Regions from separate parts of the Homo sapiens genome. Here all the other regions are reported to be linked to region 1. Evidence: microRNA targets listed by miRTarBase, many of them from high-throughput screens and not tested one by one. Region 1 holds a microRNA gene; each other region holds the end of a gene's coding sequence.
The links. Region 1 holds the annotated microRNA hsa-miR-6803-5p (CUGGGGGUGGGGGGCUGGGCGU, at 2,360-2,381, shown strand). A microRNA usually pairs through its seed, bases 2 to 8, with sites in the 3' UTR of a target mRNA and lowers its output. Matches are read on the target gene's strand: a 7mer-m8 pairs with bases 2 to 8, a 7mer-A1 pairs with bases 2 to 7 and ends in A, and an 8mer does both.

Region 2: the mRNA of MID1IP1 is a reported target of hsa-miR-6803-5p. Seed matches in the 3' UTR shown: 7mer-m8 at 2,133-2,139 and 7mer-m8 at 2,096-2,102.
Region 3: miRTarBase lists MEAF6 as a target of hsa-miR-6803-5p. Seed matches in the 3' UTR shown: 7mer-A1 at 2,494-2,500.
Region 4: the mRNA of CAPN15 is a reported target of hsa-miR-6803-5p. Seed matches in the 3' UTR shown: 7mer-m8 at 347-353.
Region 5: the mRNA of DFFA is a reported target of hsa-miR-6803-5p. Seed matches in the 3' UTR shown: 7mer-m8 at 1,561-1,567.

What each region holds. Positions count from the first base shown.
Region 1 is chr19:55,243,006-55,247,604 of GRCh38, reverse strand. It overlaps MIR6803 (microRNA 6803), which reads left to right and starts at 2,355; the gene lies at 2,355-2,419. PPP6R1 (protein phosphatase 6 regulatory subunit 1) reads left to right here. Exons shown (of 24, transcript NM_014931.4): 2 at 496-728; 3 at 1,927-2,113; 4 at 2,203-2,340; 5 at 2,420-2,485. The coding sequence starts at 502.
Region 2 is chrX:38,805,300-38,808,299 of GRCh38, reverse strand. It overlaps MID1IP1 (MID1 interacting protein 1), which reads right to left. Exons shown (of 3, transcript NM_021242.6): 3 at 1,768-3,000. The coding sequence ends at 2,802. Among named protein-coding and RNA genes, the nearest start is that of MID1IP1-AS1, 2.9 kb to the right of the region's middle.
Region 3 is chr1:37,491,304-37,494,303 of GRCh38, forward strand. MEAF6 (MYST/Esa1 associated factor 6) reads right to left here. Exons shown (of 7, transcript NM_001270875.3): 7 at 1-2,804. The coding sequence ends at 2,796. Among named protein-coding and RNA genes, the nearest start is that of MIR5581, 8.2 kb to the right of the region's middle.
Region 4 is chr16:553,213-556,212 of GRCh38, forward strand. CAPN15 (calpain 15) reads left to right here. Exons shown (of 14, transcript NM_005632.3): 14 at 127-1,424. The coding sequence ends at 304. Among named protein-coding and RNA genes, the nearest start is that of PRR35, 5.7 kb to the right of the region's middle.
Region 5 is chr1:10,458,743-10,461,742 of GRCh38, reverse strand. DFFA (DNA fragmentation factor subunit alpha) reads left to right here. Exons shown (of 6, transcript NM_004401.3): 6 at 41-3,000. The coding sequence ends at 253. Among named protein-coding and RNA genes, the nearest start is that of CORT, 10 kb to the right of the region's middle.

The DNA of each region.
Region 1 (4,599 bases):
ACAGGTTGAAGCAAATTTGAAGCCAGAGGTTAAGGCCCTGCCTCTGCAGTGTCTCTCCCAAAAGTAGGGATAGTGGACCCAGACCCTCATGGGGAGACAGGGCCCGAGGCCCCTCAGTGCACAGGGTCCAGCCTCTTCTCGCAGGCCCTGCACATGGTCCACACCTGGGGACTTCACCAGGCCTGAGGCCTCAGGTGTGAAATGACCCCCTGGACCTCAGGCGAGGCGGCCGGGAGGCTGGAGATGGGGGAAGAGGGGCAGGCTCGAGGGCAACTGCAGGAGCCTGGTGCTCACTGGGAGCCTTAAGCCTGAGTGATGGAGGCAGTGAGCCTGCGGGCAGTCCCGGGGCGGGGCCGGGCTCAGCATGAGGCAGAGGGCTGGGACTTGGGGAGAGGCTGTGCCCAAGGTGGGCACTCAGCCCCTGTGGTCAGTGCCTCGTCCAGTGGGGACTCCCTGGGGCGTCTGACGCGGCGCTGGTTGTGTCTATGCCTGCAGGGCGCCATGTTTTGGAAGTTTGACCTGCACACAAGCTCGCACCTGGACACGCTGCTGGAGCGGGAGGACCTGAGCCTGCCCGAGCTGCTGGACGAGGAAGACGTGCTGCAGGAGTGCAAGGTCGTCAACCGCAAGCTGCTGGACTTCCTGCTGCAGCCACCCCACCTGCAAGCAATGGTGGCCTGGGTCACCCAGGAGCCGCCAGATAGCGGTGAGGAGCGGCTGCGCTACAAGTGAGTTCCCCAGCTCCTGGCCAGCCCGTCCCTATCAGCATCACACATACCTTCACTACGCAAGCCTCACAGCTACCCTGAAATGCGTCAGTGTCAGTAAACTCCAGTTTGGGGATGAGGAAGACGAGGCTGGGAGCAGCCAGGCTCCTGCACAAGGCCTCACAGCTCACCGGGTGCAGACCAAGCCTGTGCTCTGGAGGGCAGTGGCACAGTCACGGGTCACGGCAGCCACAAATTCACGGGCCCAGGTGATCCTCCCGCCTCAGTTGCCCGAGTAGCTGGGACCACAGGCATGTGACGACATGCCCGGCTGGTTTTTCTCTTTATTCGCCGCCTTTTATTTTATTTACTTTTTATTAAACTTTTTTTGTATGTTTGTGAAACACTTGTCTGCTATTGAAGACACTTTACTTATTTTTTAATCCAAGCGATGCTGAAAAGACACTTTTTTTTTTTTTTTTGAGACTCACTTTATCACCAGGTTGGAGTGCAGAGGCATGATCGGCTCACTGCAACCTCCTCCTCCCAAGTTCAAGTGATTCTCCTGCCTCACCCTCCTAAGTAGCTGGGACTATAAGCCAGCACGCCCAGCTAATTTTTGTATTTTTGGTAGAGACAGGGTTTCGCCATGTTGCCCAGGCTGGTCTTGAACTTCTGACCTCAAGTGATATGCCTGCCTCAGCCTCCCAAGGGGTACCTCCCCACAGTCCTGGAGCAGACTGTGGCCCCTCAGGGCCTTGAGTGGCACGCTGGTGGGGCAGCTCTTGTCTTGGAGCCGTCAGGCACCGTGTGAAAGTTTGGAGGAGGGAGGCAGGAGGTGAGGTTGGAAGTTGAGCAAGGTTCCAGGAGTCAGCCGGAGCTGGGGCAGCATACGGGGTTGCAAGTGAAGCCGCTGAGAGGCAAAAGGGATGAGTGTTAGCTGCTGGGGGATTGGGAAGCGCAGGAGCTTCAGGACCAGCTTGTCTTGGGGGTGGTAAGGAGCCTAGGATGGGATGGTTGGGTGTTAGCAGGGTGGAGGAGGCCTGGTGTGGGCCCTTGTTTCTGCGTCACCCTGTCCTCTGCCCTTTCCCCTTCCTGGACAGGGGTCTCTGCAGTTCCCAGAAACCCAGTGCCCGGTGCAGAGAAGAGGGTGGAGCCTTGCCGCCCCCTGCCCCCGGCCTCCGACCCGAGCCCCCACCCGCCTGTGCTTGCCTCCCAGGTACCCCAGTGTGGCCTGCGAGATTCTGACCTCAGATGTGCCCCAGATCAATGATGCCCTGGGTGCTGATGAGTCCCTTCTGAACCGGCTCTACGGCTTCCTGCAGAGCACCGGCAGCCTCAACCCACTGCTGGCCAGCTTCTTCAGCAAGGTCATGGGCATCCTCATCAACCGCAAGACAGACCAGGTGCCCTGGCCCCCACCCTGGCGCCACCGTGGGTTGAGGGGTGGTGGCTGGGCCAGGCCCTGTGCATGACGCAGCCCGTGTGCCCCCAGCTCGTGTCCTTTCTTCGGAAGAAGGATGACTTCGTGGACCTGCTGCTGCAGCACATTGGCACCTCGGCCATCATGGACCTCCTGCTGCGCCTGCTCACCTGTGTGGAGCGGCCTCAGCTGAGGCAGGATGTTGTCAATGTGAGCAGGGCCGGCTCCTCTGGGGGTGGGGGGCTGGGCGTGGTGGACAGCGATGCATCCCTCGCCTTCTCACCCTCAGTGGCTCAACGAGGAGAAGATCGTCCAGCGGCTGATTGAGCAGATCCACCCGTCGAAGGATGAGAATGTGAGTGCTGCCGATGCCCCTGCGGATTCCCCTTAGAGTTCCTTCCCCATGCCCACTTCCCCACTTTTAAAAGAGGAATTGGGGCTGGACGCAGTGGCTCACGCCTGTAATTCCAGCACTTTGGGAGGGCGAGGTGGGAGGATTACTTGAGCCCATGAGTTTGAGACCAGCTTGGGCAACATAGTAACACCCCGTCTCTACGTAAAAACTTAGCTGAGTGTGGTGTTGCACACCTGTAGTCCCAGCTACTTGGGAAGCTCAGGTAGGAGGATTGCTTGAGCCGGGAGGTCAAGGCTATAGTGAGTCATGATCACACCACTGCACTCCAGCCTGGGTGACACAGTGAGACCCTGTCTCAAAAAAAAAAAAAGAAAGAAAAGAAATTGGTGAGAAAAGAGAGCATTGAGAACCAGGTGTATCCATGCCCTTTGAGAAAAGGAAAGAAACTTGACTCAAGTGATTCTCCCACTGTGGCCTCCGAAAGTGCTGGAAAGGTTTTTTTCATGACCCAGGAACTTGGCACATAATGCCTTGCAGGGAGGGGCCCTCCTCATCGCCTGTCCAAGCGCTGGCCCCACATCCGTCCCTGCCCACCCTGGCCTGTGCTATTGCTGGGCCTGGCAGCTTTTTCCCTGTCTCCTGCCTGATTGAACCCCTTGCTGTCCTTCTAAGTGTCCGTCCAGCAGCCTTGCTTTCAAGCGCCCTCACATCCTCCCCTTTAGCTCTGGGGGACCCCATGTCCATGTGTTTCTCCAGCTTGGGTCTCCATCTCTGTCCTGGTGCCCAGCACAGGGCCTAGTGTAGAGTGGGTGTTTGTCAAGAGCCTCAGATATCCGAGGCCACTGGGAGCAACATGTCCTTCCCAATGCCAACTTCTGCCTCAGAGGCGCACAGGCTTACAGAGCAGAGATGGCTCTGGGCTCACCCAGGCTGGGGCCTGTCCCTGTGAGGACCCTGAGGCATGGCCCAGGGCCACACTGCCAAGCCCTGGCAGCTGCCCGTTGGGTAGACTCAGCTCTGCTTATGCTTCTCTCTTTTCTCTCTTTTGTAGCAGCTTTACTGAGATGTAAATTGCACAGCATACCACTCACCCACCGAAGCTTACGATTCAGCGCTTTTAGGGTATTCAAAGCGTTTATCATCTTGTTGAATTTAGATTATTTTTTATCACTCCAAAAAACAAGTCCTGCCTGTAATCCCAGCGCTTTGGCAGGTGAGGCTGGAGGATTGCTTGAGCCCAGGAGTTTGAGACTAGCCTGGGCAACATAGCAAGACGTTGTCGCTACAAAAAATTGAAAAATTAGCTGGCATTGGTGGTGCACACCTGTAATCCTAGCTACTCAAGAGTCTGAGACGGGAGGATCTCTTGGGCCCAGGAGTTCAGGGCTGCAGTGAGCTGTGATGGCACCACTGCGCTCAAGCCTGGGGTGATGTAGAGGCCGTGTCTTTTTTTTGAGACAGTGTCTTGCTCTGTTGCCCAGGCTGGAGTGCAGTGGCGTGATCTTGCCTCACTGTAGCCTTGACCCCCCTGGGCTCAAGCAATCCTCCTGCCTCTGCCTCATGAACAGCTGGAACTAGAGATGCACACCACCATTCTTGGCTAATTTTTTTGTATTTGTAGAGATAGAGTTTTGCTATGTTGCCCCGACTGGTCTCAAACTCCTGGGCTCAAGTGATCCTGCCACCTTGGCCTTTCTTTTTTTTTTTTTTTTTTTGAGATGGAGTCTCGCTCTGTCTAGAGTGCAGTGGCACGATCTCGGCTCACTGCAGCCTCCACCTCCCAGGTTCAAGCGATTCTCCTGCCTCAGCCTCCCGAGTAGCTGGGACTACAGGCGCCTACCACTGCGCCTGGCTAATTTTTTTATTTTTAGTAGAGATGGGGTTTCACCATGTTGGCCAGGCTGGTCTCAAACTCCTGACCTCGTGATCCACCTGCCTCGGCCTCCCAAAGTGCTGGGATTACAGGCGTGAGCCACCGCGCCCGGCCCCACCTCGGCCTTTCAGACTGCTGGGATTATAGGCATGTGCCATCACACCCAGCCGAGACCCTTTCTCCAGAAAAAATAAAAAAGATGCCCTGTGTTCATTAGCAGCTCCTCCTGATCTTCCCCTTT
Region 2 (3,000 bases), not on the chromosome of region 1:
CCGGTTTTCTATTGCATTTTTTCAAGTGGAAAAGTTAACTAAATGGTTGACTCACACAAAGTGGTGGAGAAATTGTGCATATGTCATTTTTTTGCTAAAACCTTTTGTTTCAAACTATACTGCTTTAAGATCTCATTTCAGAAGGGCATAGTCTTCAGCCACAGTTGTGATGGTTGTAAATGCTCATAATTGGGCATTCTTAGGGTTTTTTCCATCCCTGGGGTTTGCATGTTGTTCACTTAAAGCATTCCTAAAATGGTTGGCTTCTGGTTTGCAAGCCAGCTGATAATGGTAGCAACCAAAGACTCCAGGGTGTAAGCATATGAAAGACTCTGCTTGCTTGTGCTAGAAATAACAGCATCTAAAGTGAAGACTTAAGAAAAAACTTAGTGGCTACTAGACTATCCTTAGGACTCTGCATTAACTCTATAATGTTATTGCTTTTTTTAAGCATATTTGTCAGAGTAGTCAATATGTTAAAACTGAACATGTATGAAAGTTGCTTAGATAAATGTAATCACTGTAAACATCAAAAAAGAGAGAAACTTGTAAAGCATTTCAGCAGTGCCTAAAGAAAATTTTAAGCCTCAAACACTTTATATATAATCTCATTTAATTCTCACTGCAACTCCATGAAGCAGTGTAGTTATTTTTATGCCTGATTACTAATGTGGCAACAGGCATGAAGTTAAATGCACACAATTAGTAGCAAGAGGATTTGCACAGTTTCTGGCTCCAAAGTCTTTGAAAGTCTTTGTGTTTCTACCATGCAGCTTTTTTCTTTTTTTCAGTTTCCTTTATTTTTTGCTTGCACTTTGATATTTTAAAGGGGACACGAGACAAGAGGCTGTATGCCTTACTTTTGGTGCTGCCTAGCTTATCTTTATACAAATTAAAGATTAACTTTCTCTGGCAACTGGCAAGCACCCATCTTGACACTTCCACATTTTTTTTCACTGCTGCTAAAAGCTGATAGACTTGAACTGCCCCTGCCCGCCAGCACCACAAAACATTTTGCTTGTTTTTTAAGACCGCTAACTTATATGTATTTTAAATTCAAGCCCTACGAGCTTAGAGAATGCCTCATGACTTCAACAAGTTGATCTGACATTTATACCCCAAAACAAATAATGAAATAAAGAATATGCAGAGCACATTCTTTTACCTTTCCCACCATCCCAGCAGAGCATCATAATGGCACCTAAGCATTCCCAAGGGCTCCACAGCAGCCTTGATCAGAACTGCTGTCCACAATTGCAGACTGGCTCACTGAAAAACTGGAAGCATTACTGGACGCCGCTCAACAAAGCTTAGCCCTTTTTGGAACTAGTGAAAGAAGTCATCGATCATGTTGTAATGCATTTAAATGTCTACTCAGATAAACATAAAAACCTGTAAGGTGTGTGCACTAGGATTAGCTGGTCTTCCCTTCTAATTTTCACTTCTCAGTAACCAAGTGAAATTTCAGCCTTGTTTTTATGCCTCAAAACACTTTAGCTTGTGCTTGAGCTTCTTAAAAAATTCAAAATGTTAATTACGCACTCCAATAAGTTAGCCAAATTGGTTGAAAGATACAATATATGTACCTTCCCAAATATTTTAAATATTTCTGAACTTTTTGTTGAGATGTATGGTCTTATCTTGGTACTGAATTAGAAATAAAGTTTGGAAGTAAATTTTGTCAGTACCTAGTTCCCAAACAAAGCTAAATACTTGCACAGATGAATATCCACCACCATGAAATACCAGAGAGAACACAAAATTTACTTTTGCTAGTAAATCAATTAAATTGATTTTTATTTAATGACGAAACCATTCATTGGCAGATTAATGAGGACCAGACGCTTGTCCAATTTAGTTGACACATTTGCTTTTTTATTTTTTAGAATATAGTCTACATCTGGATTAAAAAAAGTTTTAAATAAATTTAAGACATACAACAACAGTGGAACCCTTCATCATTCTATGTACAACACGATAGAATGTCAGTTGGTTCCATTTCGGTTAAGTCCACTTTCTCATAATAATGTTATTATTTTCACTGAGTGGCAAGCTACGTACAAGCTGGCGAAATGCCAGCTTATACACACTGGGGTGGGGGTGGGGACGGGAGTGGCACGAAAGGGATGGGGTGGGGGTGCCATAGGACTACTATACAGTGTAACAGAAAATCATTAATAAAGTAGTACCGATTACCGACAGACAGTGCTGTTTGTGCGCTTATCACAATGGAATCGCTGAAGTTTCAGAGCAAGGAGGAGATTCGAAATACTTCACACAGGGCCAATGTTACAAAAAGAAATAGTGCAAACAGGAAAACTGATGCAATCCTAGCAACGCCTGGGCCTCCACCGGCCCAACCGCAGGGCGGCGGGAGGCTACGCGCCCCGCCTTCCCCAGCACCCAGCTCCGGGCTGCTTTCCCAAGTGTGGCAACCCAGCGCCGCGCCCTGGTATGGCCCCTTCTCGGGCCCTCTCCTCCGAAAAGAACAGAAAAGAAACCCCAGGAAAGGCACAGGCTGAATGCAGGGCGTCAGCCCAGTCCCATTCCCACCAACATAGAATGCAGGCCCCCTCCCAGGAGGTTCCTTGGGCCCTCCCATCTCCGGCCACCATTTTCTTCTCTCTCACACGTGGCCCCCTCCTCCACGCAGCCCCACCGCGCCTCCTGCACGTACGCAGCCCCCCAGTTTGCAGTCTGCCCTTCCCGCCCCCCAGCCAGGAAAAAAAAAAAAAGCTTTGAGGAATGAGAGAGGGTGAGATGGGTCGAAGAAGGTGCTGGGCAGCCACGGGCGCCACGCCTCAGTGGCCCCAATTGCCGAAGCCGATCTCCTGCTTGTATCTGTTAGTGAGGATGTTGGCTTTGCGCGTGAGTTTCGAGAGCACAGTGTGCAGCCCGCGCAGGTGGTAGTGGAACTGCTGTTCCAGGTCTTCTTCGCCGGCGTCCGCACCCTCCAAGTGGCCCAGGTCCACCAGGATGTCCTTGGACTTCCAGGCACTG
Region 3 (3,000 bases), not on the chromosome of region 1:
AGACCAGCCTGCCCATCATGGCAAAACCCCATCTCCACTAAAAATACAAAACTTAGATGGGCATGGTGGTGCATGCCTGTAGTCCCAGCTACTGGGGAGGCTGAGGCAGGAGAATTGCTTGATACCTATAATCCCAGCACTTTGGGAGGCCAAGGCAGAAGGACTGCTTGAGGCCAGGAGGACTGCTTGAGGCCAGCCTGGGCAACATAGCAAGAAGCCATCATTACAAAATAAAAATGTTTTAAATTAGCTGGGAATGGTGGCATGCACCTATAGTCCCAGGTACTAGTAAGGCTGAAGCAGGAAGATGGCTTGACCCCAGAAGTTCGAGGCTGCACTGAGCTTTGATCAGGCCGCTGCACTCCAGCCTGGGTGACAGAGCAAGATCCTGTCAATAAATAAATAAATAAATAAATAAATAAATAAAATATATAAATACTTAAATAATCTTTTTAAGAGCAGTACTATTCTGTCTCCAGCAATGTCAAACTATGAGAGTCAAAAATATTTTAAGGTCTGCTGTGTGCTTTCCTCAGAGGGAAGGAAACTAGGCATCCCACTGCAGTTTCATAAATACGTAAATAATCTTTTTAAGAGCAGTACTATTCTTTCTTTTTTTTTTTTTTTTTGACAGAGTCTCGCTCTGTCGCCCAGGCTGCTGGAGTGCAGTGGCGCAACAGAGCAGTACTATTCCATCTCTAGCAATCTCAAACTGTTAAGAGTCAAAAATATTTTTTTTTTTTGAGATGGAGTCTCGCTCTGTCGCCCAGGCTGGAGTGCAGTGGCACTATCTCAGCTCACTGTAAGCTCCGCCTCCCAGGTTCATGCCATTCTCCTGCCTCAGCCTCCCGAGTAGCTGGGACTACCGGCACCCGCCACCACGCTCAGCTAATTTTTTGCATTTTTAGTAGAGATGGGGTTTCACTGTGTTCGCCAGGATGGTCTCGATCTCCTGACCTCGTGATCCGCCCGCTTCGGCCTCCCAAAGTGCTGGGATTACAGGTGTGAGCCACCGCACCCAGCCCAAGAGTCAAAAATATTTTAAGGTCTGCTGTGTGCTTTCCCCAAAAGGAAGGAAACTGTAGGCATCCCACTCCTCCCTCCCAGCAAAGGAGACCAACAGACAAAAAATACAGAATGCTTCTAGGATTTTTTTTTTTAAGGAATAATCTAAATATAAGAAACTATTTCCTTAAAAATCCTGACACTGGAGTTCTGCTACCAAAGACACAGTCAAAGATCTAAATAGCCAGAGTCAAAAAAAAAAAAAAAAAAAAACCCACAAAAGTTTATTTGAGAACAAGAGTGAAAGCTTTTGCACATCTGACAAGGTAGACTTGTTTTACAGTAGATGCCATCCATATTCAGCCCTACCAATACTATCACAAATGAAACATACTATTTCTTACAAAGATATAGGCATAAGTCAAGGACTATGACTAACTAGAGTGAAAGGAAAGGTTAGACCCCAAATCTTATCCCTTAGACCAATCATAACATAGGATGTAAATTAAACCATTCAGTCTTCTAATGTAGTGGTTCTCAACCTGGCTTCTTATCAGAATCCCAGGAACTCTTTTAAAGAAATTCCCAATAACTAGGCTGTACCCCAGTCTCTAGGGATGGGATCCAGGCATGAGTATTTTAAAGCTTCTCAGGTGATTCCAATGTGCAGCCAGACCCTGTCGCAAGTTCACCACAGCACTAGAGGCAGGTAACGATTACTAGCAGATTCCTCAGCCCCAACAAGCCCTCCAAGAAAGGGAGACCTGGTGGGCAACACTGGCTCTCACTGATGCTATCCTTTCACTCCACTTAAGAACGACATAAGTTATCACTTTTGGTATAATTTTGAGACTTTCCATATGCCATGGTGATTTTTAGAGCAATATTTAATCAGGTGAATACCAGCAAAGAGAGAAAATACAGAAAAAGAAATTTCCATAAGGCATGATATGAATAAATAAGTGAAAAAACAATCTCGGGTTTAAAAGTAAAGCATGAGAATTTGAAGCCTGTGAAATTTTATTTATACAAAAGAATAAAAAGTTATTTAAAAAGAACTGATTTAAACTTATGTTTTTCCATTTTTCCTGTTCCTTGAACATGAATCTACTACCAACTCAGAAAGATTTAAGATAGGTAATTACTAAACACTCTTTACCTCCCCTTGCAAAAAACAGAGGCAAGTTTCCCATTTTACTTATGATAAACCAGATTATTTTCAGTTATGAATATTGGCAACTGCATGAAAGAGATGATCAGATATGTCAGCAGGAAAGTATGAGCTGTACAAAGGCATTACAAAAAAACCCCAAAGAAAATAAGATAAAAACAACAAGAGAAAAACAAGAAAACATAAAACAATATAAGAAAATGCCAGATATTTACAGCCTCCATCTGAAATGTGACTTGTGTTCTACTTTCAGCATAAAACAAAACCAGAGAACATTTCTTGAAGGGTATCACAGATGAAGCTGGTGCCAGCCAGTTTTGGGGGAGACATTCATTCTAAGAAGGGAGAAACGCACAGTTAGCAACTTGCTGGGATTACAACATTGTCTTCATCTTCCTGCAGTTCTGTTACTAAAAATGACATAAAGTAAGACCCAATGTCTTACAGAAATGACTTGTTTGTCACCACATTTAGAACAAACTACTCAAAGTCACAGGCACTGGGTCTGGGAGAGCAGAGGTGGATGGCCACGAACTCAGGTGAAGGATGTTTATCTTTGTGAGGTCAGAGAAGGGAAGCAGGGCTCTACAGCCTGGAAGCTTCTGCACTAATGTGTCTTCTAATAGTCCTAAAGAAAGAAAAACAAAAGTCCCAACTTACTCTCGGCAGAACAGTTGTTTGACCCTAAAGGAAAAAAAAAATCTCATAAACAACTCTACTAGGGGACTGCTCTATAGCTAAAGATTATATTTCAGGCCAGGCACAGTGGCTCACACCTGTAATCCCAGCACTTTGGGAAGCCGAGGCAGGGAGATCACGAGGTC
Region 4 (3,000 bases), not on the chromosome of region 1:
CCCTGCCCCCACCCCTGTACGGGTGTTTGTCACCCCACTCCTGCTCCTGCCCCTGTACAGGTGGGCACAGCCCTGCCCCCATCCCCACCCTGCCCTCCACAGGTCCTCACCGGTCCCCTCCCCCAGGCAGGTCCTGGTGATCTTGTCCCAGCTAGAGGGCAACGCCGGCTTCTCTATCACCCACCGCCTGGCACATCGCAAGGCAGCCCAGGCCTTCCTCAGTGACTGGACAGCCTCCAAGGGGACCCACAGCCCCCCACTCACGCCAGAGGTCGCCGGTCTGCATGGGCCCCGACCGCTGTGACCACCATGCCTGGGGCAGGGGCTGTGCACAGACGGACCCCCCACCCCCACACGCACTTTATGAGGGAGACCCCGACAGAGGACGCTTGAGCCAGAATCTCAGGACCCCGCCCAGGGAGCTGCCAGCCCAGGGCTCAGCTTCCCATGGGCCCCCCGCCCCCCTCCTTCCCCTCCCTGAACCCCACAGTCCGCCTGGCCAGGCCTCCTGGCCGCCACGCAGAATACCTCGAACCAGGCGGGCTGTGAACCAGCCCCGCTCACCTGCCAGCCCCAACACCCGACGGGGGCCGAGGCCAGGCTGCCCCTCCCTGTGGGCTCAGGGTCTCCTGCGGGCTAGGCAGCCAGGAGCTCTGTCCGCAAAACCAAATCTGGGTGTCAGAGGCCAAGACCCTGGGGTGGGATCAGGGACCACCCCTCACGGGGCATAAGGTCAGTTTTCCCCCAGAGCCCGGGTCCCTGTCCCCCACAGGGCAGGCGGGGTCCCTGGAGCCCTGGTGTGGAGCGGCGAGTCCCGGGGCGGTGCCTGTCTCAGAAGAAGGGGCCCTTGGCCAGCCCCCCAGCGACACTATGCAAATCCTGGAGTGCCCGCCAGGATCGAAGCCATGACTGGGTGCAGGCGGGCGCCAGGCCCGCTGTGGGTGGGCACCAGTTCTCAGCACCGCTCACTGCTGCCGGGCACACTGGGACCAGCAGGCTCCTCAGCCAACCCTGTCCCTCGGCCCGGCCCTGCCAGAGAGGGACCCCAGCACATCGTGGGCACGGGCAGGGCTCAGCCGCTCCCACCTCCCCACAGAAGCCCAGGAGTGTGTGGACGTCTGAGCCCAGCTTTCTGCGTGCCCTCCTGGCCCCTCACTCCCGGCAGCGGGCCGGCCTCGCCCCCACTCCCCCTCCTACCCCGGCAGGGGCTTCCGGGGCCTTTTCACCTGGAGAAACATTCCCACTCCCCTTTGGCCTCCCTGTACTCTGAGCTGTGAATATTTTTAACCCTGTAAATACGGCCAGCTCTTGTGACACAGAGACTATTTTATCAATTGTCAGTCCCGTTCCTTTACCATAGGATTCTCCACAGTGGCTTCCGACTCAGGCTCCAATGGACCAAATAAAAGCGTTTTGTTTTGTAATCACGCCTCCTCCTCCTGCTGTTGCCCCGCGCAGGGCCCTGTGGAAGGGCGGGGAGGTTGCAGGTCTGAGGGGTAGGCCCTGCCCAGGCATCCCGGGCAGGCGGACGGGTGGGGGCCCCTGGAGATGGCCGTGGTGGGGTGACTCACAAGCTTGTAAGGGGCAGCCGGCCCTGCCAAATGGACGCAGCCAGGAAGGACGGAGTGACTGGGCGGGGGCAGGGGTCAGACCCTGCGGCCGCAGCCCCAGGGCCGGGAAGGACTGGGCAGACGGGACAGCAGCGCATGCAGCTTCTTCCAGCGAGGCATCCGCACGGGGGGCTCTGTCTGAACCCATCAGTCACCCGGCAGGAGCAGATGGAGTGAGGGGGCGCGTGGGGAGAAAAGTTTCCTGTCCCCTCCCAGCCTCGTCCCAGGGTGGCCTCTGCCCCCACACGGGTGCTGCTGAGCAAAGCGCCCGCTCGGAGGCTCTGCTGTCTCCCTGGACGGAGTTGGGGGCTGGGGTGCGGCCGGCGCGGGGTAAGAGGCTGTCACGGGCAGCGTATCGAATGTGAAAGCAATTAAAGCCACCAGCAGTGTTCGCTCCGGGCGGGCCTCGGGCGGCGGGGAGCTGCCAGAACACATCTCACCTCGGTGCCCGCGGACGCCGGCCCTGCTGCTCCGCGACTGCGCCACGTCACACTCCTCCTGTGGGTGGGGGCCGGGCTCGTGCCCGCTCCTGTTTGGCACAGAGCTGGCTCTGTCTAGTCCTGGGGTATCTGGGACCCCCGTTCCTCCCGAGACCCTGCTCCTCTGTCCCTGGCCCCACCCCCACCACCACCCACCTCTCTGGCTTCTGCCACCCCAGTCCTGGGGTGGCCCAGGACAGAGGCCCACAAGAAGGACCCTCCTTCTTGCAGGAGTCCCGCACAGCAGGCAAGGGGTCCGTGCCCACCCCCTCAGCTGCCCAGAGTCCCCACTAGCCCAGCCAGCAGCCTCCTCTCCACTTGAAAGCCCCCGGGAGCAGCTCCCACAGGGAGGTGATGAGGGAAAGGGGGGGCGTCTGCAGAGGACTCAGGGTCCCACAGCACAGACCCTGCCAGGTGTTGGGCCGGGGCCACGTGAGGGGCTGCTGCGGAGGCCTGGAGGAGGCGGCTGGCAGCAGGTAAGGGGAAAAGATGCGAGCGTCCTGCAGGCAGCAGGGAGGATTGGCTGGGCAGGACACACAGCCCTGGCGCGGGGCAGACCTTGGTGGCAGCTGTCGGGGCTGACTCCTTCCCACTGTCACTGCCCGGCCCCCGCCCAGCCCTCCCCTCCCTTCTCTGTGCAGGCCTCTCCCCTCCCCCGCATCTCCTCCTGGGTCTCACCCCCACCAACAGCACCATCTCTCTGGTGTATCTGGTCTGTCCCAGCCCTGTGCCCCCACGGTGCCCTCTCCTGGCCCCTCTTGTTGGCGCTGCTGGCCACAGCCTTCCCGGGGTGGGCAGTGGCAAGTTCTCACTTATGAGGCATCGCTGTCAGAAGCATTTAGTGTACAAATTAGCCGTGGCCTCCTCGCCTCCTTCCACAGCTCTGGGCTCCAGGCTGACTGGGCCGCGGC
Region 5 (3,000 bases), not on the chromosome of region 1:
CAGAAGGCCCAGTTCTCAGGGGTTTTTATTCTTGCTGCAGTTGGTTACCAAGGAAGACCCCAAAGCACTGGCTGTTGCCTTGAACTGGGACATAAAGAAGACGGAGACTGTTCAGGAGGCCTGTGAGCGGGAGCTCGCCCTGCGCCTGCAGCAGACGCAGAGCTTGCATTCTCTCCGGAGCATCTCAGCAAGCAAGGCCTCACCACCTGGTGACCTGCAGAATCCTAAGCGAGCCAGACAGGATCCCACATAGCAGCAGCGGGAAGTGTGCCAAGGAAGCTCTGTGGCGTTGTGTTATTGGTAGACACCCTCAGCCTCATCATTTGACTACCTATGTACTACTCTACCCCCTGCCTTAGAGCACCTTCCAGAGAAGCTATTCCAGGTCTCAACATACGCCGTTCCACCAATTTTTTTTTTAGCCCCACCAGCTTCAGGACTTCTGCCAATTTTGAATGATATAGCTGCACCAACAATATCCCGCCTCCTCTAATTACATATGATGTTCTCTGTTCAAAAGTAATTGGCAGTGATTGGCCAGGCGCAGTGGCTCACGCCTGTAATCCCAGCACTGGGAGGCCGAGGGGGGCGGATCGTGAAGTCAGGAGATCGAGACCATCCTGGCTAACATGGTGAAACCCTGTCTCTACTAAAAATACAAAAAAAATTAGCCAGCCATGGTGGCGGGCGCCTGTAATCCCAGCTACTTGGGAGGCTGAGGCAGGAGAATGGCATGAACCTGGGAGGCAGAGCTTGCAGTGAGCTGAGATTGCGCCACTGCACTCCAGCCTGGGCAACAGAGCGAGACTCCGTCTCAAAAAAAAAAAAAAAAAAAGTAATTGGCAGTGACTATGGGCGCACTGCCTAACATTTAGCCCTGCCCCATATGGAACATGTTAAAAAAAAAAAAAGCCAGGCCGAGCGTGTTGGCTCACGCTTGTAATCCCAGCACTTTGGGAGGCCGAGGCGGGTGGATCACGAGGTCAGGAGATCGAGACCATCCTGGCTAACACAGTGAAACGTGTTTTTACTAAAAGTACAAAAAACTAGCTGGGCGTGGTGGCAGGAGCCTGTAGTCCCAGCTACTCGGGAGGCTGAGGCAGGAGAATTGCTTGAACCGGGGAGGCAGAAGTTGCAGTGAGCCGAGATTATGCCACTGTACTCCAGCCTGGGTGACAGAGTGACACTCTGTCTCAAAAAAAAAAAAAAAAAGGACAGGCACGACAGTGGCTCACACCTTTGATCCCAGCACTTTGGAGGCCGATGCAGGCGGATCACATGAGGTCAGGAGTTCAAGACCAACCTGGCCAATATGGTGAAACCCCGTCTCTACTAAAAATACAAAAATTAGCTGGGCATGATGGCGGGTGCCTGTAATCCCAGCTACTCGGTAGGCAGAGGTTGCAGTGAGCTGAGAGCGCACCACTGCACTCCAGCCTGGGTGACAGAGCTAGACTCCGTATCTCAAGAAAAAAAAAAAGTTTTGTTTTGTTTTTTTGAGACAGAGTCTCACTCTGTCACCTAGTCTGGAGTGCAGTGGCACATTCTCGGCTCACTGCAACCCCCACCTCCCAGGTTCAAGCGATTCTCCTGTTTCAGCCTCCTGAGCAGCTGGGATTACAGGCACGTGCCACCATGCCCGGCTAATTTTTGTATTTTTAGTAGAGACAGGGTTTTGTCACATTGGCCAGGCTGGTCTCAAACTCCTGACCTCAGGTGATCCACCCACCTCAGCCTCCCAAAGTGCTGGGATTACAGGTGTGAGCCACCACCCCTGGCCAGAAAAAAAAGCTTTTAAATAAAGTAATTGTCAGCTTAGGCAACATAGCAAGACCCTGTCTCTACAAAAAAAAAATTTAAGTTAGCCAGGCATGGTGGCACTGACCTATAATCCTAGCTACTCTGGAGGCTAAGGCGAGAGTATCACTTGAGCCCAGGAGCTCAAGGCTGATCATGCCACCATACTCCAGCCTGGATGATAGAGTAAGACCCTACTTTTTTTTTTTTTTTTTTAAAAAGGTAACCATCAAGGGCAATGAAAAGAAATGGTCGTATTTCCAATTCATTATCCTTATTCTGAAGATAGTACGGCAGAATTTTAAGCAGAGATAGTGGTGAAGATGGTGACATTATAGAGTGTTGACTATGGCCACAATCTTGTTTCTCCAGTTAATGAATTTTTTTATGTGTTTGTTTAAAGATACATATTAAGCTTGTAGACCATAGGGACATACGGAGAGTCCATTGCTAATATCTCACTCAGTATTGTGAAATTCTATCTCACCACCGTGAAACTCTTCAGTTTTCTAATTGCTTTATCAGCAGGGGGTATAAAAGGTCATGAAAGCAATTTCCACATGCTGTGGCTCCAGGTCTCTGGGTGTGAAGCAGAGCAAGCCTGGTTTGTCCTCCTCCTGTCTCCACACAGACGGCTTCTGCAGGTTTGGTAATCTACAGTACACTCCTTGCAGGGAAAAGGTGATGAGTCATCATGGACTTATTTGACCACTTTTTATGCATGCTTAGAGGAAAACAGAATACTGTTAAGAGATTCATCTGCTAGTTATTAAGTAAAGAAATATCACAATAGGCCGGGCGCAGTGGCTCACACCTGTAATCCCAGCATTTTGGGAGGCCAAGGTGGGCGGATCACCTGAGGTCAGGAGTTCGAGACCAGCCTAGCCAACATGGTGAAACCCCGTCTCTACTGAAATTATAAAAAATTAGCCGGGTGTAGTGGTACACGCCTGTAGTCCCAGTTACTTGGGAGGCTGAGGCATGAGAATTGCTTGAACCCAGGAAGTGGAGGTGGAGGTGAGCCGAAATTGTGCCACTGTACTCCAGCCTGCAACAGAGTGAGACACTGTCACACAAAAAAGAAAGAAATATCACAATATGTCACAATAGGCCGGGCGCAGTGGCTCACACCTGCAGTCCCAGCACTTTGGGAGGCCAAGGCAGATGGATCACCTGAGGTCAGGAGTTTGAGACCAGCCTGGC